Linked DNA regions of Homo sapiens: all the other regions are reported to be linked to region 3. Evidence: microRNA targets listed by miRTarBase, many of them from high-throughput screens and not tested one by one. Region 3 holds a microRNA gene; each other region holds the end of a gene's coding sequence.

Region 1 (7,108 bases), not on the chromosome of region 3:
TATGTACATAGTGTTAATAAAATGCATTGTAACTCAGTACATTTTTTTCTTTACACATAAAGCACAAAAAGATTTAGATAAAAAAATTAAAACAGGGATGTTTCTAGAATGTAGGGAATTTTATTAGAAATGTATTTCCCTCATTATAGTTATTTATTTAGTATTCAACTCCAATAGAAACATCAGAGTTAAAAATCAATACCCTGTTTTGTGCTGACAGTTGTGGGGGAAGTCTTCTTTACCCCAACCCTCAAAAACCAAAAAGCCAAACACCTTTCTAGGAACTTCCCTGATTATTTTGCTTCTAAAAAGTTTCAAGTGATACATCTGGGTTAGAAATAATTCCTTTTGCAGGGAGTGGGGGAGTTACAACTGACATGTGGACAAATCAGTCAAGGACAACTTTACATGGAAAACTGCTAACTAGCACTCTTCTTTGCCACCCCTAATAAATCTATACTCAAAAAAAATGTTGACAATTATTTCCCACTTTTAATATAAATAATTTTATTACATACACAAATTGGAGTGGCACTTGGATAAAAATACATCTATAAAGCATTTACCAATTTTAAAAACATAAGAAAATAAAACCTCCCAAACACAATGATAGATCATTTCACTTGGCCAACAAACATAAAATCATTATTTGCAGAGATTTTCTTCCTCCCTACCAATTTTTAAGCTAACTCAGATTTACTCTCACTTCTCTGAGATGCTCCTCAGACAAAAGCTTGGAAATGCCATACTTCTATAGGCAAGTAATGTTAGGTCAAATGTGAATTTCCTACTCTTTGATCCTTTTCAAAGACAATTCCAAAAGATTGTTCATTTTCCTTTTACTTGCTGGTGAGAATAATTAAAAATGTATCATGTCATACCCAGCTGGGACCTGCACCCACCGTACCAGAATGCAGACAGGTCAGTATTTTCTTTCTGTGCTAAAACTGCCTGTTTATAATATCAACTTGCATCACCGGCTTTGTTCTATTTTATTTATATATTTTTTAAATTTTTCTTTTTTTAAAAAATAAATTTCAAGCTAAAACACCTGAAATATAATCCCTCCATTCAAACGTTATCTGGTCCCTCTTAAAGTCGGTCTGCCCCCTGAGGACACATACAAAGGCTTAAGCTACATTCACTAATCAATAAGAACTTATCATAAGCAGATGAGACAGATGGAACTTCAGCACCCTGTTTATTTGAAAATTTTCCATACTGACTCAGCTTCATGATATGTTCAGCCCCTCAAAGATTAATGCCTCTCCTAGCCATTGATTCTAGAATGTCAAGGAAACCAGTTCCTAGTACATACAGTGACTGTGTAGCCAACTTAATAGTCAACATTATTACATTAAGAATATTCAAGATGTATGTAAGCCTCCCAACAAAAAGTTCTAGTTGTGCTTTGTACAACTGAGTGAACTATTTATCTCACAACTCTTCACCTACAGCCTTACTATGCACACTTTACTTTCTCCTTCCTCATCTGAAATCAAATTTAGGCAGCATTTCTTTGATGTTAACAAAGCCATTAAAAATGAACATATTTCAGTATATTACATGTGGTCTCTGTGAGGACAATTGCTTTAAAAAGTCTTGTACTATTCTAGACAAATTAATGGATATTTTGGCATACTATGTACAGTATTAATGTTGTGATGAGGATAAAGTCTCATTAAAAATTGAAAATAAATATTATGCACTTGAGTTATTTTCCCTTCAATCTTCATCCAAGATGAAAAAGAATAAAACAAGGTTTGAGCCCGTCTTTTAATTAACTGGGCTAGTCATATCTAATTTCCTGATGTTTTTCTTTTACAGCTGTTTTTAAGGCTAGCTTTTAGGTGCTAAAATATTTTAATCAATGAAAAACTTCCATTTAAAAAGTCACATGATTTGAAGAGAGGAGAAAGACTAAAAAGTTGAGAATTACTTGATGAGGGAATTTCTTAAGTTGCTAATACCCAAACTGGGTCATTTAAAAAAGTGCAAGTTACACCAAACATTTACAAAGGACAGAATGTAAATATAATCCAAATAAATATACAACTTTTCTATTGGGTCCATGAGGGAAAAAATATACCAACAGCTTTCAGGGCTACAAAGGCAACAAAAATAAAGCCTCTTGAAAACAACTGAAAAGGTATGTAACACTATTTCTAAAACTCACTTTAATTCAAGATCTTAACTTTAAGATACATTAGCCCTACTTAATCCTGCAAAATGAAGCAGCCGTGATCTTCAAAATAAACAGAGACCAATTTATGGTAATAGCTGACTGTGGCTGATCATAGAATTAAAAATTTGTTAAATATTAAAAGAAATCTAGATTGAAGTCACTTCAAGTAAGTAAAGCATCCTGGTTTAAACAAACGTATTTCTTCCTAAGCCTTTGTATGATTCCACATGTCACCCCAAAAGGTAGAAATGATAGTAGGGATTTGTCCTACAGGGATTTATCCTGAGAGACAGAGATAAACTTCAGCCAGATGACATCTGATGGGATAGGCTGCCTGACTGGTATTGTGCTTTCAGAGACTAGCACTGCTGCTGACCTACCATCAAAACACATTTTCTGACAAAATCCCTGCTCAAATGAAATGCCAAAATTCCTCCCCCAGGATGATTTTTGAAAAAATCAGTGGTTCCTTTAAAAAGCTATCTTCAAAATGTTCTTACCACTGTTATAGCTGCCACAGACAAAGCATACAAACCAAATACTTTTGGGGGAGAGGCTTTCAAGTGACTAGTAACATATTTAAAAGTATCAAGCCAAAGAAAACTAATAAAAAATAAAATACTTGGAAGAAAATTAGAAGATAAAATCAATCATGAGTGCTGGAGTAATGCAGTCATAGAAACTACCAGAAGGAATGCAACAGAACACACAAAAATGTAAAATTTCATCTGACCTCAATATACTATAATACTCAGCATTCCTGACTTAAGAGCTCTCAGAGCTTTAGATTATATACTGTATGTATATATATATATATATATATATATGTACACATATATTATACAAATGCCACCCCCCCCAAGAATATCTAAATGAAGAGAGCACCTATGACAATATTATGGTTGCCAATATGGTACTTGAGTTTGAAAAAGAATGAACTTAAAATTGTATCTGATAGCAATTATTTAATAATGAACACATTGGATCTAGCCCTTTCTAAGCCACTTTTCAGTTAAACATTATCAAAGCTTGAAAACTCATAAGAGTAATATATCAAAAATAAACCCCTCCCCACTTCATTTTTATTAATCTGTCCTATAGATAAAAGTGCCACATGGCCCTATATTTGCAAAGTGAGCAATATCAAACTTGCTATTTTCTAGGCAAATCAGTAGCATATGTACAAATTCCTATGATGACATTTTTATTCCCTTTTGGCCAATATAAAGAGAAAAACATTTATTACTGGTAATGTGGCCACATATGTTCTTGGCTACAAGGTTTTTAAAAATTATGTCATTTTCTTAATAAAGATTCTCAAAGTTTCATGCTTACAAACAAACCTCCCCACCATTCTTGCATTAAAAAAAGAAAACTGCACAAAAGATGCTTGATTTTATCTTTATAAACTGAAATCTTCAAGTTTCACCAAGGGTCTAAGACAGATTTAGCAACAGGATACATTTCTCACCTCATCATTAAGCAACTGACTTCAAAACCAGTGCAATCATCCTCAAGGTATGAAGGATAAGGTCTTTATAACTTATAAATTCATCCAGCTCACATGAATGTGATTGCCTTGATTTATCAGGGACTAAGAGGACCACCAACTTCCCAGTAAGTAGAAAGCCTGAACTTTTGAAAAAAAGCTTTAGAGAATACAAACTGCTAAACATCAGGCAATTTTTCATTTATAACACTTACTTCATTCAAAATGTTCGATTCGACATTTTGACTCAATAAATAATTCCAACTTGTGAACATATTTGTGACTTTGCTTGATTTCTGTTAAACCAGTTTTTAAAAATGACATATCTATGCGGTTACACAATTTTTATGCTATAACTTTCCCCATTAGCTCAGCAGGACAAACATCAAACTTTATAGTTGTTTGAAAGCCTTCTTGAGAATCTGGTGAACTGTCCAAACATAAAGACTACATCACTTAATTCTTAGAATGATGCTCCTTCATAAACTCTGTTCATCCTTGAAAAAAGACAATGGTTTGTTACAAACGAAAATATACCATTTACAAATGTTAATTAAAATCTTATTTTAAAATGGATCCAGCAATTAACACTTAAATCTTCATATTTTGTTGTTAAACAAGCTTGACTTTCTTAAATAACTCTTGACTAAATATAAAACATTAGTTTTCTAAGTGTCTCAACTCTTTTTTAAAAGGAATTTCCTTCCCAAATGAGACATTTTTTTTATTTTTATTTTTTGAGATGGAGTCGCCCAGGCTGGAGTGCAATGGTGCTATCTCGGCTCACTGCAACCCTCTGCCTCCTGGGTTCAAGCAATTCTGCTGCCTCAACCTCCTGAGTAGCTGGGATTACAGGCGCCAGCCACCACGCCTGGCTAATTTTTGTATTTTTAGTAGAGATGGGGTTTCACCATGATGGCCAGGCTGGTCTTGAACTCTTGACCACAGGTGATCCACCCACCTTGGCCTCCCAAAGTGCTGGGATTACAGGCGTGAGCCACTGCGCCCGGCTCCAAATGAGAAATTATAACCTAACATTATGTCAGTTTCCAATTTTTAAAATCCACCTTAGTCTTTTTTTTTTTTTTTTAAGAGTAACTGTTAGATTTATCGAGCTTAGTGAATAAAATGAGTAACAATTAAAAGTGGTATTGAAAACAATGTATGATATACACAAATACAGACTGTTTTAATCAGGAATTAAAATTATAAAATGACAAAGGCTATACAGCATATTGGAAAGCTAAAGCAGAACTAATAACTACTCTTTTTACAAGAGAACAAAAAAATGTTTTGTAAGAATGACAATCCAAATATTGCAGTACAGCAGTCATTCAAATATGTCTGAAAATAACTTTCCTTGTGCACATCTAACACTGTACTTTTTATATCCTTACAACTTCTTTCATTTAAAAAATTCACTAGAGATTCTCTGTTAAATTGTTAATATGGAAAATATTTAAAATCAGTATTTTTCTACATGTAACATTTCATAAACAAATATATATCACTTTGCTTTATTTGACATCTTGAAGGCTTTCTTGGTGGTGGTATGTAAGTGCAATGGGCAACAGTAAATTAGAAATATCTTTTTACGTAAATGAGTGACAATATAAATATTTTTGAAGGTGAGGACAATAACATTTATTTAAAAATCTTGTTATATAACTCAAGGGATTGGTTTACTGATCAGCATTTTACTAAGAATTTAGTACTAACTAAAATATGCTTTGTACTTTTATTTACTTTGCTTTAATTTAAAATTCAAATACCATGCTTTGTCGTTCAGTTGGTTACTTCTTTTAATGTATTCAAAAATGTTGAACACATACAGAACTGAATTAAGAAGCAACAACTGCCCTATGGAAGAGCTGTATTAGTACAGAATGCTTTTAAGAACCAAGGACAAATTTTCAGTATTGAAGAAGACAACATACATAAAAAGCACTCCAAATTCATTTCTAATTCCTTCAATACCATGCTAAAGTTCTTTTTTAGAGGGTATGTCTCTTAACAACTTTACATAATTCACAATGAGAATGTGACAACATGTCAATTTGGCAATCAACACTTCTTCATTGCACCTTACTTACTTTATGCATGCGGCCCACACATTACTTCAGCTCAAGAGGCTGGGGTAATTCTGTCCCTAAGGCAATCAAGGAGCTCAGCACAAACCTTGAAATCATTTTTAAAAAGATTTTCTTTTCCTCATTTCTCCCATCAATTTACAAGTAAACAAATTATTACTTCTTGAGGAGGGTGGGGGTTGAAAAGCAGAAGTCTCTTCATGATTCCTGGCGTTGAAAATTTCTTGAGGGGAGAAGTGGAGGCAGGTGTTGGAACATTCACAGTTTAATGCAAAAGCACAAATGAATGAAATTCTGTAGTTGCTTTCAGGCAGTTTTGCGCATAGAAAAAAAGAAATGTTTAGAAAATAAAATGTTTATTTTGTCTTTCAGGTTGTGGCCAAGCCAGTCCATTTTCCACCTTAACAGGTGAAAATTTAAATCCCAAATTAATCTGATTTGTGGCAGTAAAGGTCCTTAAGTGCTTTTAGCTCCTCAATCAATGTCTTGTTTTGATTTTCAAGCACTGCCACTCTGTTTTCTAAACATTTCACATATTCTTTCTTCTTTCTACGACACTCTCGAGCTGCTTCCCTACAAGCAAAAGAGGACGGGAAAAATTATGCAAATGATTTCCACATATTTATTTTGGATTACCTTTTTTTTTTCTTTTTTAAAGAAATAGCTCACAGCAACCAACATTTTAGTATATATTAAGCATTGGAAAAGATATACAGAATTACTTGGAAATTACCTTATATTAAAATTTTAATCTGGCCAGGCGTGGCGGCTCACGCCTGTAATCCCAGCACTTTCGGGGGCCAAGGCAGGGAGATCACCTGAGGTCAGGAGTCCAAGATCAGCCTGGCCAACATGATGAAACCCCTCTCTACTATAAACACAAAAATTAGCGGGGTGTGGCGGCACATGCCTGTAGTCCCAGCTACTTGGAAGGCTGAGCCATGGGCATCGCTTGAACCTGGGAGGCAGAGGCTGCAGTAAGCTGAGATTGCGCCACTGCACTCCAGCCTGAGTGACAAGAGTGAGACTCCGTCTCAAAGAAACAAACAAAAAAACAACTCCATAAACAAACAAGACCTAAATGACCACTTAAAAATTACATCTTACTATTAATTAAAATATTCTGCATAATTCCTGCAAAACTTGAAATTCTATCCATATCAATAACTAAGAAAACATTAAAGCTAAATTTCAATGTGTAACAATCCTTTAAATAGAAAATCTTACAAACTAATCATTTCAGGGCATTTAAAAAAATCTAACAGTCTCTTCAACAAATGGTGCTGGGAAACCTGGATATCCACATGCAAAAGAGTGAGGTTGGGCCGCACCTTATGTTGTACA
Region 2 (7,121 bases), not on the chromosome of region 3:
GACTTGTGACTTAAACACCATTAAGGACTGAACATTTTAGTCCTATAAACAAGTTAGTTTTGTAGCCTGTGTTACTTCTCCAAGGTTTTGAAGTTGGATCTTTGCTGTACTACTTATATCCTGTGAAATTGAGTCAGGCTCATCATCTAAACAAGTTAAACCTGTTGCTGTACATTTTACTGTCATTCTAGACATAAAAAGGAGAAGAAGAAAGATAAAGACAAAGAAAGAAGTAGGGATGAAAGAGAACGATCAACAAGCAAGAAGAAGAAGAGTAAAGATAAGGAAAAGGACCGGGAAAGAAAATCAGAGAGTGATAAAGATGTAAAAGTATGTTTACAAATTGATTTATTTTTATATTTGGGGTGATGTTGGTACTTTCAGAAGTTATTTTTCTTTGGAGAAGTTTACTTTTATTATTCTCCTTGGCAAAGCAGGTTACACGGGATTATGATGAAGAGGAACAGGGGTATGACAGTGAGAAAGAGAAAAAAGAAGAGAAGAAACCAATAGAAACAGGTTCCCCTAAAACAAAGGAATGTTCTGTGGAAAAGGGAACTGGTGATTCACTAAGAGAATCCAAAGTGAATGGGGATGATCATCATGAAGAAGACATGGATATGAGTGACTGAATATTGCCTCTGAGGGAGTCCAACTGTATACCTGCATCAGTGTCATTCCTTTGTGTGATTTCTTAATGCTGTATTTGTTCATCTCAAACCTAGATGTATACAGCTCTGAGTTATAAATGGTTATAAAGCTCCTGTTACTCATATTAGTTATTTACATCAAAAAGCTTTTAGAAAATGGTACGAGGTAACCAATTCTTGTCATGGTGAAATCTGATTGAGTAACCAAGCAGTTTTACTATTCTGGTGCTGCTTCATAACAAAAATGAAAAGCTGCATGCATCTACAGCAGGCATGGATTGTTTATGTCGTATGATATCCTTTATTAAGTAAGTTCACTTATAGTATTTCTATAATTTGATTCATTGCCGTAATAGAGCCATGTAGGAAATGCACTGATTGCATGTTATTGTGGCAAGAATATCCTAAATGTCATTAAAATCCTCCAACATGATGGATCTACTTATGGTCTTGTTTGTTGACATGACAAATTAACATTCTTATAGTTACATCTGGAAATGAGCATTTGAAATAGATAATCCTTTAAGCCTTGTGGCAAAATTTTTGTGGCTTTTGTTTAACTTTGAAAGGTTATTATGCACTAACCTTTTTTGGTGGCTAATTAGGGTTTAAATACAGAAACAAGATTTCAAATAAAACTGTCTTTGGCAGTGAGTAAATAGCATATTTTGAAGTAGAGTTGTATACTTTTTCATAAGATGTTTGGGAATTTTTTTCCTGAAGTAATAATTTATTCCACATCTACATCAGTGAAAGCTATCTACCTATCCTGAGTCTATCTTAAAGGAAAAAAAGAAAAAAACCTTATCTCTTGCCCTTATTTTGAATTTTCCACTCTTTCATTAATTTGTTTTAAGCTCCGTGTTGGAAAAAAGGGGTAGTGCATTTTAAATTGACCTTCATACGCTTTTAAAATAAGACAAATCTACTTGATAATGTACCTTTATTTGATCTCAAGTTGTATAAAACCAATAAATTTGTGTTACTGCAGTAGTAATCTTATGCACACGGTGATTTCATGTTATATATGCAAAGTAGGCAACTGTTTTCTTAGTTACAGAAGTTTCAAGCTTCACTTTTGTGCAGTAGAAACAAAAGTAGGCTACAGTCTGTGCCATGTTGATGTACAGTTTCTGAAATTGTTTTACAAGACTTTGATAATAAAACCCTTAAACTTATGTTCATGTTCCTGTAAAACCGTATTTGTATTTATTTACGCTACTGAATGTATGACATTTACCTCATTCATTTTACAAATTCTTTCCCTTTCTGTCCACATATTTCAGTATAGTAAAAAGAGGAAGTCTATCACTGTAGTGATAATTGCCATCAAAATTGTCAAAAATGATTTAATTTCTATCCAAAATAGTCCTTTTCTTAGCTTAGTATCATTTTATTGCTTATTTTTTGTGTGGGAATGGGGTTGGATAAAGCAATGAACTTTAGTATAAACAAATCCCACCTATATCTAGCAAATTTATATTTTCGGTGAAATACAGATATTTGCCTTTCTGGAGTAGTATAGAAGCTGTCAATATGTATCTACTGTACAGTACTAAATAGTATTCATTTATGAAATGAGTAGTGTTTGGGTGGCTGGGGTTAAGGGAAAATGAGACTTGGAATTGTAGCTTTTATCCAAGTTTTGAGTATAAATAGGGTTTTGTTTTGTTTTTTTTAACCTAAAAACTGAAATGCCATATAGAAAAACAGCATTGTTTTTACAGTTTGTAGTAAGTAACTTTTTAAAGATTTTATCAAAAAGAATTGTCTATAGTGAGTAAAAGAAGTTCTAATAATGGTCCTAATCACTGCATTTTTAAAAAACAAAGTTCAACACAAATGACATTTGTTTTAAACTTTAGTAGATAAAAGGTGAACCATGTGACATGGGCATTTTTGTAAGTCAAAAACAAATTTCACATATGGTAAACCTAATATTCACAGTGTGTTCCCTCACTTGTAATCTCTGAATACAAATATACTAGCTTTTCTAAAGGGAATCATTTTTTTAAAAGTAGTGCCACTGACAAGATGCTACAGTGAAGATTATCCATTCTTAGGATATTTATTTTCAGTGAACATTTTCTGCACAAAGGTAGTGTTGCACTGGGACACAAGCCTTTTAACAGATAACCAGTTGAAATCAAACACTGCCTCCACACCGAGTTCTGTTGTGTATTTGATAGTAAATTGATTTAAAAATAAAAGTGGTTTTTGTTAGAAAAATGTTTTGTCCTTATTTATTTGCTTAAATCCTTTAGGAGTGAACGAGAGGTGGTAGCTATACAATGAGCTTTTTTAAATGGAAAGATAAGAGTCCAGTCATGCATTTGGTCTTTATTTCATAGAGCTGGAGATAACTGTGTTCCTTACCTTCAGTTTCCTACGGGTAAAATGGAAGTGATTGCTACCTTGCAAAGTACAGACATACCTCGGAGGTATTGTGGGTTTAGTTCCAGACTACAATAAAGCAGTTCATGAATTTTTTTGGCTTCCCAGTGCATATAAAAGTTGTTGGCTGGGCACTATGGCTCATGCCTGTAATCCCAACACTTTGGGAGGCCAAGGCAGGAGTGCTTGAGCCCAGGACCAGCCTAGGCAACATAGCAAGACACTGTCTACAAAAAAATAAATAGCCAGGTGTGGTGGTGCACACCTGTAGTTCTAGCTACTGTGGAGGTTGAGGCAGGAGGATCACTTTGAACCCAAGGAGTTGGGGCTGCAGTGAACTATGATCATGCCACTGCGCTCCAGGTTGGGTAATAGCAAGACCCCATCTGTATCTGTAAAACAGTAATTTTTAAAATGTAGCCTTTGGTGCCTGGGACATTAAATGATAGCTGCTATTTGATTATGGGGCCCTTAAAAGTTATGTAACTAATAATTTGTGTAGGGGGTAATGTTAAAAGCACAAAATAAATTGCATACCTTTTATTGAAAAGGCTGTGTTGCCCTTAACTGTTTTCATGAAGATGGATCTTAGGTAAGTTTCCTCGTGGCAATTCTATACATGGAAGACAGAAAAATGCAAATAGGCACTTGGGAAAAGGAAGGAGAGGATAAAAATTACTGTTAACCTTGGAGCTACATCTTAAAACTGAGTCAGGTTCTGGAGTGTGCATTATACAGCTTATGTCATGCAGATTACAGTATTAATACATCAAATTTATCTCTAGCAAAATTATCACTCAGTTGGGCACTAGATGAAGGGTTGGATCCATGCATGCTGTTTGTAGATTGATACACATCTTTTCAAATGGAATTGAGATTTCTTTTCCCTCAGTCTGCCTCAAAACCAGCTAATGCATTTCATCCCTGTGCTTCTATTTTTTCTAATCAAGTACATGTGGTTGTGTTTTAATTAAATATGGGTGTAATGGAATTGTTACTCATACTTTTAAAAGCATTCAGAATGTCTATTAAGGTTTTATTAGCAGAAGTAGTAATTGTACCTTTATAAATTTCTCAATGAGACAATTTTTGGAGTGGTAGATATTTTGAATTTCAACCTGTTTTACTCAGTTTTGTTTCTATTCCCATTTTCATTTTATGTCAAAGTATATGTGAAATTTATTTAGACATTCTTAGCAAAATATCTTAGGTGAGTACCATGACAATTCTTTTATCAGTGGTAATATTCTTTAGAATATACTTAAGGTTTATCATAGAAGATGGTTAGCAATCGTGTGTGTGTGTGTGTGTGTGTGTGTGTGTGTGTGTGTGTGTGTGTGACGGAGTTTCGTTCTGTCATGGTCGTCGCCAGGCTGGAGGGCAGTGATGCAATCTTGGCTCACTGAAACCTCCGCCTCCCGGGTTCAAGCAACTCTCCTGCCTCAGCCTCCCGAGTAGCTGGGACTACAGGCATGCACTACCATGCCCAGCTAATTTTTGTAATTTTACGCGAGACGGGGTTTCACCATGTTGACCAGGATGGTCTCTGTCTCCTGACCTCGTGATCCGCCTCCCAAAGTGCTGGGATTACAGGCATGAGCCACCGTGCCCGGCCGATGTTTAGCAGTCTTAAGACAATTTACAGTCTGATATGACTAATATTTCTAGGTGACCAATAAAATGTTCTTACAAAAATAATGGAAGTGACACATTCACATCATTCTCAGATTTCTCAATTTATTAAAGGTTATTTTTGCAATGCACTGTCACTAAAATTAGTACCATGATGTCTTTTTTAAAAAAAAAGCTAGTTAGGGCTGGGTGCGGTGGCTCACGCCTGTAATCCCAGCACTTTGGGAGGCTGAGGTGGGTGGATCCCTTGAGGTAAGGAGTTCGAGATCATCCTGGCCAACATGGTGAAACCATCTCTACTAAAAATACAAAATTAGCCGGGTATGGTGGTGCATACCTGTAATCCCGGCTACTTGGCAGGCTGAGGCAGGAGAATCGCTTGCACTCAGGAGGCGGAAGTTGCAGTGAGCCAAGATCACGCCACCCCACTCCACTGCACTCCAGCCTGGGTGACAGAGCGAGATTCTGTCTCAAAAAATAAATAAAAATAAAAAGCTAGTTTGCCAAAATATGGTTTGCGCATGAGAAATTGAAGGTCTAGGGTCACAAAAAATAGAATGTTCCAAATGATGTTTAATATCATTCACGTTCAGTTATCCCAAAATGTAATTTAAAAAATTACTTTCTAGCAGGGCGCGGTGGCTCACGCCTGTAATCCCAGCACTTTGGGAGGCCGAGGCCGGCAGATCACGAGGTCGGGAGATTGAGACCATCCTGGCTAACACAGTGAAACCCCGTCTCTACTAAAAACACAAAAAAATTAGCCGGGAGTGGTCTCAGGCGCCTGTAGTCCCAGCACTGGGGAGACTGAGGCAGGAGAATGGCATGAACCCAGGAGGCGGAGCTTGCAGTGAGCCAATATCGCGCCACTGCCCTCCAGCCTGGGCGACAGAGCGAAACTCCATCTCAAAAAAGTTATTTTCTGACGGGCATGGTACCTCACACCTGTAATCCCAGCATTTTGGAAGGCCCAGGCAGGCAGATTGCTTGAGCCCAAGAATTCAAGACCAGCCTGGACAACATTGTAAAACCCTGTGTCTTAAAAAAAAAAAAAAATACGAAAATTAGCCAGGCATGGTGGCACGGACTTGTACTCCCAGCTACCTGGGAGGTTGCGGTGGGAGGATTGCTTGAGCCCGGGAAGCGGAGGTTGCAGTGACCCAAGATTGCACCACTGCACTCCAGGCAAAGCGACAGACTGTCTCAAAAAAAAAAAAAAATGGTTGTGCTTTCTGCAAATATACTAAATGTAATTTTGACGTTATGTTAAATGTAAAAACTGCTTTTTTATTCACTAAATTGGCAAAGTTAAAATGTGTTCATTTAGGCCGGGCGCGATGGCTCAGAGGCCTGTAATACCAGCACTTTGGGAGGCCAAGGCAGGCAGATCACGAGGTCAGGAGATCGAGACCATCCTGACTAACACGGTGAAACCCGGTCTCTACTAAAAATACAAAAAATTAGCCGGGCGTGGTGGTGGGCGCCTGTAGTCCCAGCTACTAGAGAGGCTGAGGCAGGAGAATGGCGTGAACCCGGGAGGCGGAGCTTGCAGTGAACCGAGATCGCGCCACTGCACTCCAGCATGGGAGACAGAGCGAGACTCCGTCTCAAAAAAAAAAAAAATTTTGTTCATTTAAATACCAAATTTTGGAAGACAAGCATCAAGTAGATTAAGAACATTTTTATCTTTCCACAAAATTAATATATCAATCAGGATTCAGAGAAGCAGAACCACTAGAAGATATACTTTTTAACAGATATGACATCAACAATGGTGAGACCTAGTTAAGCAGTTTGTAAGGCTTCATCTTTGCATCTGATGCTGGAGGTTGAAGTTCATTTTAGGCAGTTGGAAAGCAAAGGTGAATGATTGAGGGAGGGATGGTGGCACTAGGAATAAGCTGGAACTAGCCACAAGCACAAGCTAGAACCACAAACATGGACTGACACTCTGGTCAGATCTCGCTGCTTCTGACCTTGGTGGCATGGATGTCCTTCCAAAGCCAGGACTCTTTATCATGGAGCAAAATATAGCTGGCCCATGAGTCTGAGAAGCTGAAGGAGGATTTGGGGACAGTGGAACAACTGCAGGCCCAACTGCAGCCTCATCCCAAAGGAGCAGCAGATAAGCCACAATGTGTATGAGCTACAAAATTTGTTTCACTTCAGCCCTCCAAAACTCCTACATTATCCATATTCATTAGTCATGCATTGCATAATGTTGCCTCGTTTTGGTCAACAATCGACTGCATATAGGATCGCAGTCTCAAAAGATTATAAAGGAGCTGAAAAATTCCTATTACCTAGAGACATCGTAGCCATTATAACATCCTAGCCCAGTGCATTATGTGTTTGTGGTGATGCTGGTGTATACAAACATACTCTGCTGTCAGTTGTATAAAAGTATAGTACATACGGCCGGGCGCGGTGGCTCACGCCTGTAGT
Region 3 (7,121 bases):
GGTACGTCAGAGGAGGGCCTCAAGGAAGCCTTGCATCTCTGATGGTACGTATCCTTGTGTGTTAACCCTTGCCGTCTGTTTCCTTTGCAGGAGGACACCCTGGGCTCTGGAAGAGAGACAGCACCCCAGAAGCCGGCCAGGAATGGTTGGAGGGAGGCTATTGGTGATGTGTTCACTCTGTGTGTGGCAGATACCCCACAGTGGACCTCCTAAAGCACTGAGTGCCTCCTTGAAGGACTTGCTGTACGTGGTGTGAAGTTCAGGAACACAGTGTGGGTGTCTGTCAGCCCCTCGCAGAGGGTATGTGCGCAGATGGTGGAACAGCTGGCAAGTGTTTTCCTTTATTTGTTTTTTCTTTTGAGAATTGAGACTTTATTGAATGAATCACCATATAATCCTGTTTCCTAAGGTAAATCTATACATAAAAAGTTAGGTCCTACACCACCAATTTCTTGTTAAGAAATGGACCAAGAAATATGAACAAAACCATGTGTAACACAGTTTTCAGAGTTTTAGAAGAATGGCAAAATATACACTAGCTTGTCTCTTGATTGCCAAAGCTTAAACTCTAAAGAATAGGGAGGACATAGGTATACACTGGAAAAAAAAATGGCAAATACGTGAGGAGGATGGGAATGTTTGTGACTACATGGGAGGCAAACTGATTTTTTTTTTTTTGAGACGGAGTCTCACACTGTTGCCCAGGCTGGAGTGCAGTGGCGCAATCTCGACTCACTGCAAGCTCCGCCTCCCGGGTTCATCCCATTCTCCTGCCTCAGCCTCCTGAGTAGGTGGGACTACAGGTGCCCGCCACCACACCCGGCTAATTTTTTGTATTTTTAGTAGAGATGGGGTTTCACTGTGTTAGCCAGGATGGTCTTGCTCTCCTGACCTTGTGATCTGCCCGCCTCAGCCTCCGAAAGTGCTGGGATTGCAGGCACCCACCACCGTGCCTGGCTAATTTTTGTATTTTTAGTAGAGATGGGGTTTTGCCATGTTGGCCAGGCTGGTTTCGAACTCCTGACCTCAGGTGATCCGTCCACCTCGGCTTCCCAAAGTGCTGGGATTACAGGCGTGAGCCACTGCATCTGGCCAGCAACTTTTTGCATCTAAAAGGTGGATGTTCCTTCTATGCTTACAGGATTTATGGTTAATCACAGAGGAAGTACCATCAGGGAAGCCCATTCCAGGAGGAAGTGGGGAGGGGGCAGGTGAAAAAAGCGGAAGAAACCAATTAGGGGCATATGCAATTAAGGACAAGTCCTGAGCAGGGCTGCTGCAGCCACATCCCACAGCAGGGCCTGGGGAGTCAGCTGCACCTAGAGCTGAGGGCCCGGGGCAGACACGGATGTGTCAGTTCACTAGCCTGGGTACCCTAGCCAGGCCCCTCAGGGAGGGATGCCAGCCCCTTGGAAGAGACAGTGTGTGGGCTGACCTTTCTCCCAACACAGGGGAAGAAGAGTTCCTTGGCTGGTTACTACACCTACCCCAGCTCTTCCAGGCTGCCGCTGTTTCAGTTACCAAAAGAAGACCCCTAAGCCCAGCCAGCAGCTATTCCTCAATCACATGTCCCCCTCCTTCAGGACCATCCTGGCAAGACCCACTCCTTGGGACACGAATGATGTCTGGCCACACAGAATACATGTTTATGACTCAGACCGTCCAATTCCCTAACCAGCTATGTCCCACTGGTTCTCAACAGGGCCTCGTGGAGGCAGCCCCGACCTGGGGGAAGTGGCCTTGCTCTGGCTGGTATGTGCAGAATGCTTGTCCATGTAGACGTGCTTTATTTATGCCAAATCGTGCTTGGGGGCTTCGGGGGATCAGACTTGCTTCCTCAACAAGCTGTGACTGCAGGGGAGGGACTGGCTAATAGCAGACAATGGGTGTTATCTGGTCCACTCACTGATCCATTCGCCAGTAGGAGGAATGTCTAACTCTGCATGTGTGAGAAGTAGTGGTTTTCAAGTACAAGACTTTTTTGAACCAGTTCCAGCTTTAGAGAAGTGAGATTGGTGTAGGTTGTCCGTGTGTGGAATGTGAATGGAGGGTGGGACATGGAGCATACGCTTTGCTTGTGGAAAATGTCTCCTGGTCCTCAGAACTGAAGCCGTTTTAGCGGCACTTCCTGGAGTGATGGCACCCTTGCGAGATAGGGTTTGAGTCTGGGATTATTGGTCCTTCATTTTTTGCTATGGGAGGCATGTGTTGTCGCTATTTTAGTAAGCCTCTGCATCCACTCCACCCCAAAAATGATTTTTCTGGAAGCTGTGATCATTGTTTTTGGAGGGTGGTATTAGTGGTGGTGGTGGTGGTGGTGGTGGTGGTGGTGATGGTGGTGGTGGTGATGGTGGTGATGGTGGTATTGGTGGTGGTGGTGGTGGTGGTGGTACTGATGGTGGTGGTGGTGGTGGTGGTGGTGGTGGTGGTGGTGGTGGTGGTACTGATGGTGGTGGTGGTGGTGGTGTTGGTGGTGGTGGTGTTGGTGGTGTTGGTGGTGGTGGTTGTGATGGTGGTGGTACTGGTGGTGTTGGTGGTGGTGGTGTTGGTGGTGGTGGTGTTGGTGGTGGTGGTTGTGATGGTGGTGGTGGTGGTGGTATTGGTGGTATTGGTGGTGGTGGTGGTGGTGGTGGTACTGATGGTGGTGGTGGTGTTGGTGGTGGTGGTGTTGGTGGTGGTGGTGGTGGTGGTGGTGGTACTGGTGGTGGTGGTGGTGGTGGTGTTGGTGGTGGTGGTGTTGGTGGTGTTGGTGGTGGTGGTGGTGGTGGTGGTGGAGGGTGGTGGTGGTAGGGGCTGGTGAGCATCATGTTTTGCTACCTCTCTCAGTTGTATTTAAAGAGACATTGTTTTTGACCTGTTTGCCTATTCCTCAGTCTGTCACACCAACATGACCAGTCCTGCCGATTGAAACTTTCTGGACACAAGCTTCAGTCTCTGGAAGATTCTTGGGTGTCCTTCTCCCTCCAAGGTATGTGAAGGATGCTCCAGCCCACAGTTACATGACATTGGTCATTAGGTGCCTTGGGAGGGCTTCATGGAGGCGATGTGACTTTAGGAACCTGACAGGCTTATTTTCTTTTTGTTTTTGATATTTTTCGAATTCAAAGCATAGAATCCCTACTTTGCCTGCTTTACTTGTGGCAAATTTTTGATGTACATTCACTTTTTTTTTTTTTTTTTTTCAGAATTAAATGCTACTTTGGAAACGCTCTTGACCATGAAGCCTCCATTAGGGAAGAGACATTAGGGTTACCCCCACCCAGACGAGTGACAGCAGGGCAGACCCCAAACTTACGTTTGCCTGCATAGGAGTTCCATCTCTGGATGTGAAGAGGCCAGGGGTGGGCCCTGCGCTTCCCACGTGGGACTCGCAAAGTGCTCACCTGCTTCTGTTACCTTCTGTCTTTCATGAATCATGTTTGCGTTTGTGCTCTCCAGGGCTGTTCCCACTTTTCCCATCTAAAAGGTGGATGTTCCTTCTATGCTTACAGGATTTATGGTGAATCATAGAGGAAAATCCGCATTTTCAGTATCTAAGGCTGCTTTTAAAACATTTCTGAACATTTCTGAGAGGAAGGTTAGCTCCCTCCCCCATGCGGAGAGTGATGGAAGGTGAATCCCAGAACCTAAGCTCTTGTTAGCAAGGTCTGTCCTGGGACATGCGTCCTCCGCAGGGCCCATGTCACTGCCGCTAGCCCGGGAGGCCCCTGCCGACTGCACCTATCCTGTGCTGTCTTTAATTTTGATAGATTGTGCTTAGGTTCATGCTTTCCAGGACTCAATCCTTCTTTGGTATTTAAAAGGTGGATATTCCTTCTATGTTTATGTTATTTATGGTTAAACATAGAGGAAATTCCACGTTTTCAGTATCAAATGCTGCTTGGAAACATTCCTGGACTGAAACCACCATCAGGGAAGAGACAATAAAGTCCCCCCCCCCACTCCAGGGTAAGTGGAAAGTCGGTGGACCTCAGAACATGTGCTGAATTCGTGCCATATGTCTGCGGACCACCCACCCGCCTTGAGGAGACCCCTCTCGCAAGCTGCCCGCTCGGCCAAGCGGCTGGGCTCCGTCGTCATTTTCTCCATGAGGCCGAATGCTCTCCTCTGTGCTATGTTACTTTTGTGTTTGATGGATTGTACTTAGGTTCGTGCTTTCCGGGATGAAACCTTCTTTGGTATTTAAAAGGTAGATTTTCCTTCTATGGTTACGTGTTTGATGGTTAATCATAGAGGAAAATCCACGTTTTCAGTATCAAATGCTGCCTTGGGATCATGGCTGGACTGAAGCCACCATCAGGGACGTGAGGTGGGGCTGAGCCCTCCAGGGTAAGTGGAAAGATGGTGGGCCGCAGAACATGTGCTGAGTTCGTGCCATATGTCTGCTGACCATCACCTTTAGAAGCCCCCTTTCGCTGAGGAGCCAGCTTGGTGCACAGGCTGTGGTGTGTTGTCACAGCTATGCTACGGGACTGAAAACGGTTGCTTTACTGTCTTGCTTCCATTTTCCATGAACTGTGTTCAGATTTGTCCTTTCCAGAGCCCAGTCCTTCTTTGGTATTTAAAACGTGGATATTCCTTCTATGTTTACGTGATTCCTGGTTAATCATAGAGGAAAATCCATGTTTTCAGTATCAAATGCTGCTTTGGAAATGTTTCTGGAAGAGACCGTAGGGCCTGAGTAGGTGCAAAGATGGTAGGCCGCACGTCGTATCTGAATGAACGGGGTATGCCCGAGAACCATCTCGAGACGCCAACTTGGTGAAGATTAAATTGTGGGTCTCGTGGTGCCAGTTCTTCCCTGGAAGCTCGTCTGCCTCATGTGACTTTCTTTTCTGATGACTCAAGCACAGGTGCACGCTTTCCTGGATGGAATCCTTCTTTGGTATTTAAAAGGTAGATTCTCCTTCTATGAGTACATTATTTATGATTAATCATAGAGGAAAATCCACGTTTTCAGTATCAAATGCTGCTTTGAAAACCTCGGAGGACGTGAAGTCGCCATGGAAGAGGAGATGTTATCTGTACCCCTCCTGGGTACAGGACGGACAGACACAGAATTGTACTTTGTATGAAATACGCCGTCAGCTTCTCTGCTGTTTGCTCACTGCCCTTGGTGCACACATAATGTGTTGTTACAAGGCTGTGTTCTCAGTATTGCCTCATTGACCTTGAATGAAGTTTGTTCTCTGTATGTTTACCATGATTGCAATGCATTTTCTGGAATGAACCTCTTTTACTGTGACTAGTTGTACCTTAGAGAATACCTGAGTGGGCTGTCAATTTCAGGAAGGGGCACTGCTTCAGGGGCTATGGAAGGAATAGATGTGTGATTCACCCACGGGCCTGCACTTCACACCTCGGTGTGCTGCTCTCACCATGCAGATCCCATCTGTGTCTCTAAGGCTTGCTCCTGGAGCTGGTGGCAACTTAGTCACAGAGGAAATGGCCTTCCTGTCACTGCCATCATTTGCTACTTGAAGAGAGGTAATCCTTCACGCATTTGCTTTACTTGCAATGATTATACAAGGGCAGACTCTCTCTGGGGAGCAAATCCTGCCTGGGAAGCCTTCTTGGGAACAAGGCTGACTCCAGCAACCTGTTAGATGGCCAGGATAGCCCTGGGGTGTGGATGGTTGACCACAGGGCATGTGCCTCTGTCTTGCTGTTTGTGACCTGGTTCTCTGACCCTCCTCATCTCATGCTTCCTTCCAAGAACTTTCTGGAAGAGATGCTGGCTTTGGAGATGATATAGGGTTTTCTCTTCAGACCACCTGTTCTGCCTAGCAAAAAGGGCCTACCTTGGCCGGGCACGGTGGCTCACGCTTGTAACCCCAGCCCTTTGGGAGGCTGAGACGGTGGATGGCTTAAGCCCAGGAGTTCGAAACTAGCGTGGGCAACTTGGCGAAACCCCATCTCTGCAAAAAATACAAAAATTAGCTGGGTGTCATGGTGTGCGCCTGTGGTCCCAGTACTTAGGAGGTTGAGGCTGGAGGATCACTTGAGCCCGGGAGTTGGGAGGTTGTAGTGAGCCAAGATTGTGCCACTGCACTTCAGCCTGGCTGACAGAGACCCCTGTCTCAACACAATAGGTTAAAAAAAAAAGAAAAGAACAAAGGGCCTCCCTTGATGGGCCCTACTTATCACAAAGCATCCATGGGCTGCTACTCCGGCAGGTCTGCCCAGCATGATGCCAGCCTCTGAGAAGAGGTCTCGTGGTCAGTGCATCTCCCAGATACATGAAAGAATGACCGTCAGCAAAGTCAATGTCTAATGTAGATGTGGGTCATCTGGTCTACCCACTCTCCATACCTAGCCCATCCTTGGAGTGACTTTTGGACCTCACTGTCCACTTGAGGGAAGGCCAGTCCACAGGAAGGAGGCCCCAGAGCACCCAGTGTGGCTACAGGACTTGCTGCTGGGACCTCTAAGCCCCACTGCTCTCTTAGTCCATTGGTGTCCTTTAGGGATTCTTGCCAATGGAAAGACCCTTGGATTCCTGGTGTTAGCATGTGTTTATTCAGAGAGAGTTGGCCCATGAGAATCTCATTTTCCTTTGACGAATCTTGCCCTAGATGAATACTTCTGAGTAACAACTAACTGCTCAGATGGCTTTCTGAATACAATGCCAAATTCAGGAGAAGGGACACTTGTCATAGTGCTGCTTTGTGATTTGCAAACGGAGTGCGTTGGATTTCTGTTTCTCTTTTTTCTTTAATGATGCATGTGACTGCATCTTCTAACCTCCCTTAGCCAGTGTTCACCAGGAGGGCTTCCTGGAGGCAGTGGCTTTGGGCAGAGGCAGAGGTTCTTCTCCCAGGGTGTTTTTGCAGGCCCTAAAGGGATTTCAGCCATTTTACATTTACATTATTTCAAATGGTACAGGATTGCCTGTCTTTTGGTAACCAATCCTGTCGTGAAGAGATGCTGGGAAGTAAAGTCAACTGTATGGCAGGCCCCAGCTCCAGGGCCAGCCAGATGAGGCTTGTCACCTGGCCCCTCCCCCTTGGTCTCAGGCCTCGCAGGAGGAGATGTCCACTCCGGCGAAGACCCGGCATAGTCCTCACCTGCTCTTTGAGCCACTCTTTGGTACTTGAAGAGAGGATACCCTTTGTATGTTC
Region 4 (7,121 bases), not on the chromosome of region 3:
AAAATGGACCCCTCGGCCAAGCCCAGCGCCAGCCAGAGCCCAGAGAAGAGCGCGGCCGGCGGCGGCGGCGGGAGCGCGGGCGGAGGCGCGGGCGGTGCCAAGACCTCCAAGGGCTCCAGCAAGAAATGCGGCAAGCTCAAGGCCCCCGCGGCCGCGGGCGCCAAGGCGGGCGCGGGCAAGGCGGCCCAGTCCGGGGACTACGGGGGCGCGGGCGACGACTACGTGCTGGGCAGCCTGCGCGTGAGCGGCTCGGGCGGCGGCGGCGCGGGCAAGACGGTCAAGTGCGTGTTTCTGGATGAGGACGACGACGACGACGACGACGACGACGAGCTGCAGCTGCAGATCAAACAGGAGCCGGACGAGGAGGACGAGGAACCACCGCACCAGCAGCTCCTGCAGCCGCCGGGGCAGCAGCCGTCGCAGCTGCTGAGACGCTACAACGTCGCCAAAGTGCCCGCCAGCCCTACGCTGAGCAGCTCGGCGGAGTCCCCCGAGGGAGCGAGCCTCTACGACGAGGTGCGGGCCGGCGCGACCTCGGGCGCCGGGGGCGGCAGCCGCCTCTACTACAGCTTCAAGAACATCACCAAGCAGCACCCGCCGCCGCTCGCGCAGCCCGCGCTGTCGCCCGCGTCCTCGCGCTCGGTGTCCACCTCCTCGTCCAGCAGCAGCGGCAGCAGCAGCGGCAGCAGCGGCGAGGACGCCGACGACCTGATGTTCGACCTGAGCTTGAATTTCTCTCAAAGCGCGCACAGCGCCAGCGAGCAGCAGCTGGGGGGCGGCGCGGCGGCCGGGAACCTGTCCCTGTCGCTGGTGGATAAGGATTTGGATTCGTTCAGCGAGGGCAGCCTGGGCTCCCACTTCGAGTTCCCCGACTACTGCACGCCGGAGCTGAGCGAGATGATCGCGGGGGACTGGCTGGAGGCGAACTTCTCCGACCTGGTGTTCACATATTGAAAGGCGCCCGCTGCTCGCTCTTTCTCTCGGAGGGTGCAGAGCTGGGTTCCTTGGGAGGAAGTTGTAGTGGTGATGATGATGATGATAATGATGATGATGATGGTGGTGTTGATGGTGGCGGTGGTAGGGTGGAGGGGAGAGAAGAAGATGCTGATGATATTGATAAGATGTCGTGACGCAAAGAAATTGGAAAACATGATGAAAATTTTGGTGGAGTTAAAGTGAAATGAGTAGTTTTTAAACATTTTTCCTGTCCTTTTTTTGTCCCCCCTCCCTTCCTTTATCGTGTCTCAAGGTAGTTGCATACCTAGTCTGGAGTTGTGATTATTTTCCCAAAAAATGTGTTTTTGTAATTACTATTTCTTTTTCCTGAAATTCGTGATTGCAACAAAGGCAGAGGGGGCGGGGCGGGGGAGGGGAGGTAGGACCCGCTCCGGAAGGCGCTGTTTGAAGCTTGTCGGTCTTTGAAGTCTGGAAGACGTCTGCAGAGGACCCTTTTGGCAGCACAACTGTTACTCTAGGGAGTTGGTGGAGATATTTTTTTTTCTTAAGAGAACTTAAAGAACTGGTGATTTTTTTTTAACAAAAAAAGGGACCATTGCAACTTTTGTTAATTTAATTTTTTTTTTTTTTTTTTTTTTTTTTTTTTTTGGAGGGAGAAAACTGATGTCTTCTATGCATCCGATTCTTAACAAAACTGCAGGGAGCTTGAAAAAATGCAGACTGTACAAACGCTTACAAAAAAAAAAACTGTGAACTGACTTAAGATCAGAGTTTACTTTTCAGATCAAATTGTTTATGGTTTTACAAATGTGATTTCTACTTGCCAACTTTTTTTTTGTAACTTGTTCCCTTATACCTCCTTGATTGAATACCAGACAGCCTAGACCTCAGTACAAAAGGTATTGAAACATTTTTGATACATAACAGACCTCAGTCTTTTTTAAAAATTAATATATTTTCAGGCGTATTTTTGTACAGTGAAAAGGGAACATTCTTGCTGTGTTTTTTCAGTAAGACTTTCAGGCACTTCTTCCCTTTTGATTTCTTTTTTTTCCTCTGTTTTTTAGCATGCAAGTATGTTGGTACGTTATGTCCTGGTTTAAAAAGGATTAAAATTTTAAAATAATCCTTGCATCTAAAGGCCTTGTGGTTTAAAAAAAAAAAGCAAACTTTTTTTTGTACAGCTATAGTAGAGATTTGTTCAATATTTGTAGGTAAAGATTTATTGAAAATGGTGATATAGACCTCAGAGCTGTTATCTTAGTTTAAAGATTGTATATGTACTGTACTATAGTAGGACTTTATGTATCTCATACGCTGTGATGTGGATGGGGCCCCAGATGGAAGGTTTGAAACTGGATTCTCGATTTTTAGCAAAAAAGAAAAAAAAAAGGCACATAGTTTAAAAAGTTTCTCATTTTGTGCAATATAATCTAAATAAAGTACAGACCATCTGCATATTTTGTAGCAAATGGTGGCAAAGCAGACTCAATGCACTGTCGACATCATTGCCTGTTTTTTTTTTTTTTTTTTTGTGCTGGAAGTCTGTATCTTGACAATTTTAATAAATCAGCTGGAACTGATAGAAACTCGCATCGCCAATAGTCTCTATGGAAGTCAAACTGGAGGTCCTGTTGTCGCAGAGCATTCGGTGGTGAGGCTGTTGTGTGCGCGGATGAGGGGAGGTGGCAGGAGAGAATTCTACATTTAGGGGGTTAGGCTGAAAAGTGTTCAATTAGCAGGCTGATTTCTTTTTCCTCTTCCGCTAGTTGTGAAAGACAGGGGAAGGGTGTTCTTTCTCTCTGCCCTCCCTTTCCATCTCCAGCTCCCCATTTCCTTTCTCACCTCCTCCTCCACTCCCTGCCTCTTCTCCCCACCCATCCTGGCGGGCGGGCTGCGCGGAGGCTCGGGAGCTGGCCGGGGAGGGGCGGATGGAGGGGCCTGGGTTGCCAGCTCCCTTGGTCGGGGTCCTGCTCGCTGGGGCTTGTGTGTTCTCTGCGGCGGGCCGCGTCCCCGCTGAGCCTCGCGGTGACAGCCGCCTTTGGCAGCGAGCGCTCGGGGCACTTCTATCCCCGCCTCTCAAAGGGTGGGGACAGCCGTTTCCAGATTTGAATTTTTTCTGTTCTTTATTTTTAACGCTGCATCTTCGCGTGTGCTCAGAGGTGGTTGTTGGCGGAGAACGCCGCCGCAGTGTTTGACCTCTAGCGGTGAAGGGGGAAGGGGAAGAGGAAAGGAGAGAAGTGGTCGGTGTCTGTTTCCTTCTGTCCCCCGGGGCCGTGGAGCTGTCGGAGGGAAGGAGGACGGTGCGGGGCCGCAGGGGGCGCGGGGCGCGGCGGGACCCAGGCTACGAGCGGGAGGGAGGCGGGAGTCGGGGGAAGACGCGGCAGGCCGGCCGAGGGCACCCCGAGGAACATGGCATGGCCTCTGTGCGATCCGAGTCGCGGTCTCCGGGGTGCCTGGGAGGGCCGAACCACTGGTGAGGGCGTGGGGAGCAGGGGGTGGCAGAGGGCACCCGGGCGGTAGTCCGGGACGCGCAAGGCAGAGCCCTGACGCTCCGGGTCCCCGTGCCTGGCTCTTCTTGCCTCGCCACCGCGTGCTCCTGGGCGCGCCCCGCCGCGGGCCCTTGAGGCGCGCGGAGACACCAGCGCTGGCTTCCCGGGCCCGCGGGCCGGGGAGGGAAGCCTCGGGGCTGCGGGGTGAGAGGAAGAAAGCAAACCCGGGGAGCAGGCGGCTGCCGCACCCGCGCACCCCGGGCCCTCACCACGCCCTCCCCGCGCGCCGGCTCAGGGGCTGCCCCGGAATCAGCTCCCCGGGGCCGCCGCAACGAAGGTGGATCCGCATCTTGATTGTTCTCCGGGAGCCTCCTGGGGGCTCCGGCGGCGGCGCGGGCGCGACCCATCCCGCTGGCGCTCCCCGCTCGCTGAACCCCGTTTGCCTGTCCACACCCCCTCGCTCCCCACCATTTTTCCTGACCGGCCTGTGTCCCCGAGCCCTCGCGGCAGGCCCGAGCAGGCGATCGCGGCCGGGCACGCGCGCCCCGGGCTCCCGCCCCCCTTCCGAGCATCCGCCGCCTCTTTTCTGCTGGGTCTGGGAGGAGGGAGGCTGGGAGGCCGCTCGGGGCCCAGCGTGCCAGCCCCGGAGTTCAGCCTCCCGAGCTGCGGCGCCCGCAGCGGAGGAGGTTTTCAGTGGCTGATTGAAACTCACTGCAAAATCACCACGACTCTTTCACCTACTGAGATGATTGACCGAGGTTTGGCCTTCCATTTTTACTGAGATTTGGCGAGACCGAATGGAAGCGTCCGCACAGTAACTGCAGCTGCTAGGCCAGAGGGGCCCCGGCGCCCTTCCCGCCTCCCCTCCCGCTTGCTTTTGCCTTACTCGATCTTACCACCACCCCTCCCCCGGCCCCCCGACTGAGAACTCGGGCCTCTCACCCGCCCCCCAGCCTCCCGCTCTGGGCGAGCCTCCTCCCCAGCCCCCACCCCTGGGATGCGAAGCCAGCAAGCTTTTGCTGCAGATGGACAGGTTTCTTTTCTGTGGCTTTTTCCTTTCGATAAACCATCAGATTTCAGTAGTACATTTGGGAAAAGAAGGGGCTGATGGCGTTAACCAGGTTCTCAATATAGAACTGGATTTCTGGAGTTGTTTACCTTACCCCACACCCCCTCAACATGTAGACTAATGCAGCCATTGGTGGTACATTTATTTTAGCCACGGATAATTGAACCAGCGGTTTACAATTGACACGTGCTCCGTGCTGGTGATTTTATGTGGCAGCCCTCTGCTGCAGTTCCGAAACTTGTTGGCAACGTAAACCCATTGATAGGCTGATCTATGTATTTTGAAAGCCTGAAAACTTGGCATGTCTTTTCTGTTTTAATCATAGATGAATCTTGGACATTTTCTGTGGTGAGGTGGAAACTTTAAGTAAATTAGTAAAGTAATAATTTGGCTTCAGAATGGGAAGAGATAGTCAAGATTTTTTTTTTTTAAAGCCATGTGGCCTAACTTGATACAAAAATAAAAGTAATTGTTTGGCAATCTAAATTTAAAACCTGTTAGAACTCAGGACAGGCGCTTCAATGCGCTTTTTAACAATATTTAAGGCTGTTTTGATGAGTGCGTTGTGAGAATCATCTTAATGAATTCTTTATTGAGTGTCTAAAACATAGTATAATACACATGGTATTCTTGCCACTGGATAGTCTTCAATAAAAGTTTAATTGATTTTTTTTTGTTGGTCTCTTAAGTAAGTCTTATTTTTAACTAAGCATTGACAGAATATCTTAAAATGGTAACCTGGGGGTGGCGGGTGGGTGCTGTGTGCACGGCAGCCTAGCCAGTGGGGATCCTGCTGTTTATTATAAGTAGTTCACAGACTCTGATGGCATTTTGGTAAGCTTTCCATCTTTAAGAAATTGAACCAGCATTCTCTTATTAATTCTTTAAACTGTGGAAGTAATTTCCAGTTCTTACACTCTGATACGCATCCCTTTTATTTAAAAAAAAAAAAAATGCTAATAAAAGGCAGTGTACTTAAACTGTGCTTTGCAAATATTGTGTATGTTATGAATGACTACAGACACTGGGCAAATTATTTGTAGAATGATTATCCTTTAGCTAGAGAAAGAAATCATTACAACTCTTTTGGGCAGAGATGTTTCTTTTTAATGTTAATCAAGGGGAAGTGATTTAAATATGCATAAATGTAGCAGTCAGGGTGATTTAGTTGCTTTTTTCATGAAAGAAAAAGACTCAAAAGACAAGACTTATTTTTCTCTTCTGGGACTTGAAATCATAATCATCTGATATTAGTACAGTACAAGAAATTTACATTTGTTTTTTACTTCAGAATTTAAGTGACTTTTGCCCAAGGAATTTGAGAAATAAGGCAAATAAGTTGCTCTATTTTAAAGTAGTCATTCAATATAAATATATTATATCAATCTTAACTTTTTTATTCTCTGATATGATTAATAATATGTATATTCTTACTTTTCTTCTAATGGGCATATGTATCCTTGTGGACACTTTGAGAGAGGTTTTCTTGGACTCTCCCATTTATAGAATCTTTATACTCTTTTACTGTGTGGTTCCCTGCTTTTAACAGATTTCTGAGGCAAATATATTTGTGCTTTTTTCTTATGTAGGAAGACCAGCGAAAATAGTTTACTGAGTTGTCAATTTTATCAGTAGATAAGAAACTTTCTTTATTACAGTTTCAGGGAAGATTTTTTCAGGATATTTCTCAGTTATTCTAAGGGCCAAATTTTGTAAAATTTCCATTAGGAATGTCAGTTTCAAATACCCTTTGTATAGCCTAAGCCTGTGAGGATAACAAGAATGAGCCTTACCTATCCTAACACAGGGATTTACAAGTTCCCAAAGTAACCGTCTCCATGTAACTCTTGACATACTTTTCTGAGATTTGGCTTATTTTTATTATTGGTTATTTCTCACTGTTCATTCTATTTGATTTATTCTACAACATCCCCTTTTATTTAATGATCTGGAAAATTCTGCTCTTTGATAACAACTCAGGATTTTTTTGTTCAGTTTTGGTTTTTGCCCCTTCCTGTGGAGCCTACATTTTCAACCACAATAAAGATGAAACAAAATTTATGAAACTGAGCTCTCTTCCATTTTACTTACTGCTGGCTTTTTTTTTTTTTTTTTTCCTTGATTCCTACCATACCTTCGTTTTTTTCATTGTACTTTTTTAACACTACCTATATCCATTAGCTGCCTAATTAGTTTTATCTGTTCCATGTGGATGCAGTGAGTTTATAAGAGAATTTCACAAACAAGTAGTTTTTTAGTGAACTTAAAATAAACAGAATTTTAAAGGAGACCTATTTTTATACTCAATAAAAGCACAAAAGTGCAGAAAGTATAAAACGGCTTACAAAGGGAGACACAAGCTCATAATGTTCCATGTATAAAAGTAATAACTTTATTGGGTAGAGATATTCTTACAAGATCTAGCACCTCTGCCAGTGCACAGATAGGACTGTTTTAAATGATTTGGGAACTTTTGGTTGCCTGCAGTTGTGAACAGAGAACTTCTCTACAGAGAAACAAACCACTAAAAGCAATATGACCGAGTTGAGATGTGGTTTCCAATGAGCAATTGGTGAATTTAAGCAACCTGGATGTGCATATGT

The links. Region 3 holds the annotated microRNA hsa-miR-376a-5p (GUAGAUUCUCCUUCUAUGAGUA, at 4,897-4,918, shown strand). A microRNA usually pairs through its seed, bases 2 to 8, with sites in the 3' UTR of a target mRNA and lowers its output. Matches are read on the target gene's strand: a 7mer-m8 pairs with bases 2 to 8, a 7mer-A1 pairs with bases 2 to 7 and ends in A, and an 8mer does both.
Region 1: miRTarBase lists CREB1 as a target of hsa-miR-376a-5p. Seed matches in the 3' UTR shown: 7mer-A1 at 4,776-4,782 and 7mer-A1 at 2,969-2,975.
Region 2: the mRNA of SRSF11 is a reported target of hsa-miR-376a-5p. The part of its 3' UTR that is shown has no 7-base or 8-base seed match.
Region 4: miRTarBase lists SOX11 as a target of hsa-miR-376a-5p. Seed matches in the 3' UTR shown: 7mer-A1 at 2,388-2,394 and 7mer-A1 at 4,997-5,003.

The regions. Positions count from the first base shown.
Region 1 is chr2:207,596,143-207,603,250 of GRCh38, reverse strand. It overlaps CREB1 (cAMP responsive element binding protein 1), which reads right to left. Exons shown (of 8, transcript NM_004379.5): 8 at 1-6,337. The coding sequence ends at 6,193. It also overlaps a transcript of METTL21A not described here. Among named protein-coding and RNA genes, the nearest start is that of METTL21A, 26 kb to the left of the region's middle.
Region 2 is chr1:70,250,174-70,257,294 of GRCh38, forward strand. SRSF11 (serine and arginine rich splicing factor 11) reads left to right here. Exons shown (of 12, transcript NM_001350605.2): 11 at 192-330; 12 at 435-2,879. The coding sequence ends at 632. Among named protein-coding and RNA genes, the nearest start is that of SRSF11, 32 kb to the left of the region's middle. RefSeq lists a silencer at 3,750-3,950.
Region 3 is chr14:101,035,892-101,043,012 of GRCh38, forward strand. MIR376A1 (microRNA 376a-1) reads left to right here and starts at 4,891; the gene lies at 4,891-4,958. MIR376C (microRNA 376c) reads left to right here and starts at 3,799; the gene lies at 3,799-3,864. It overlaps MIR376A2 (microRNA 376a-2), which reads left to right and starts at 4,178; the gene lies at 4,178-4,257. It overlaps MIR654 (microRNA 654), which reads left to right and starts at 4,328; the gene lies at 4,328-4,408. It also overlaps MIR376B, MIR300 and MIR1185-1.
Region 4 is chr2:5,693,094-5,700,214 of GRCh38, forward strand. SOX11 (SRY-box transcription factor 11) reads left to right here. Exons shown (of 1, transcript NM_003108.4): 1 at 1-7,121. The coding sequence ends at 954. Among named protein-coding and RNA genes, the nearest start is that of SOX11, 4.3 kb to the left of the region's middle. RefSeq lists silencers at 3,514-3,603, 3,894-4,063.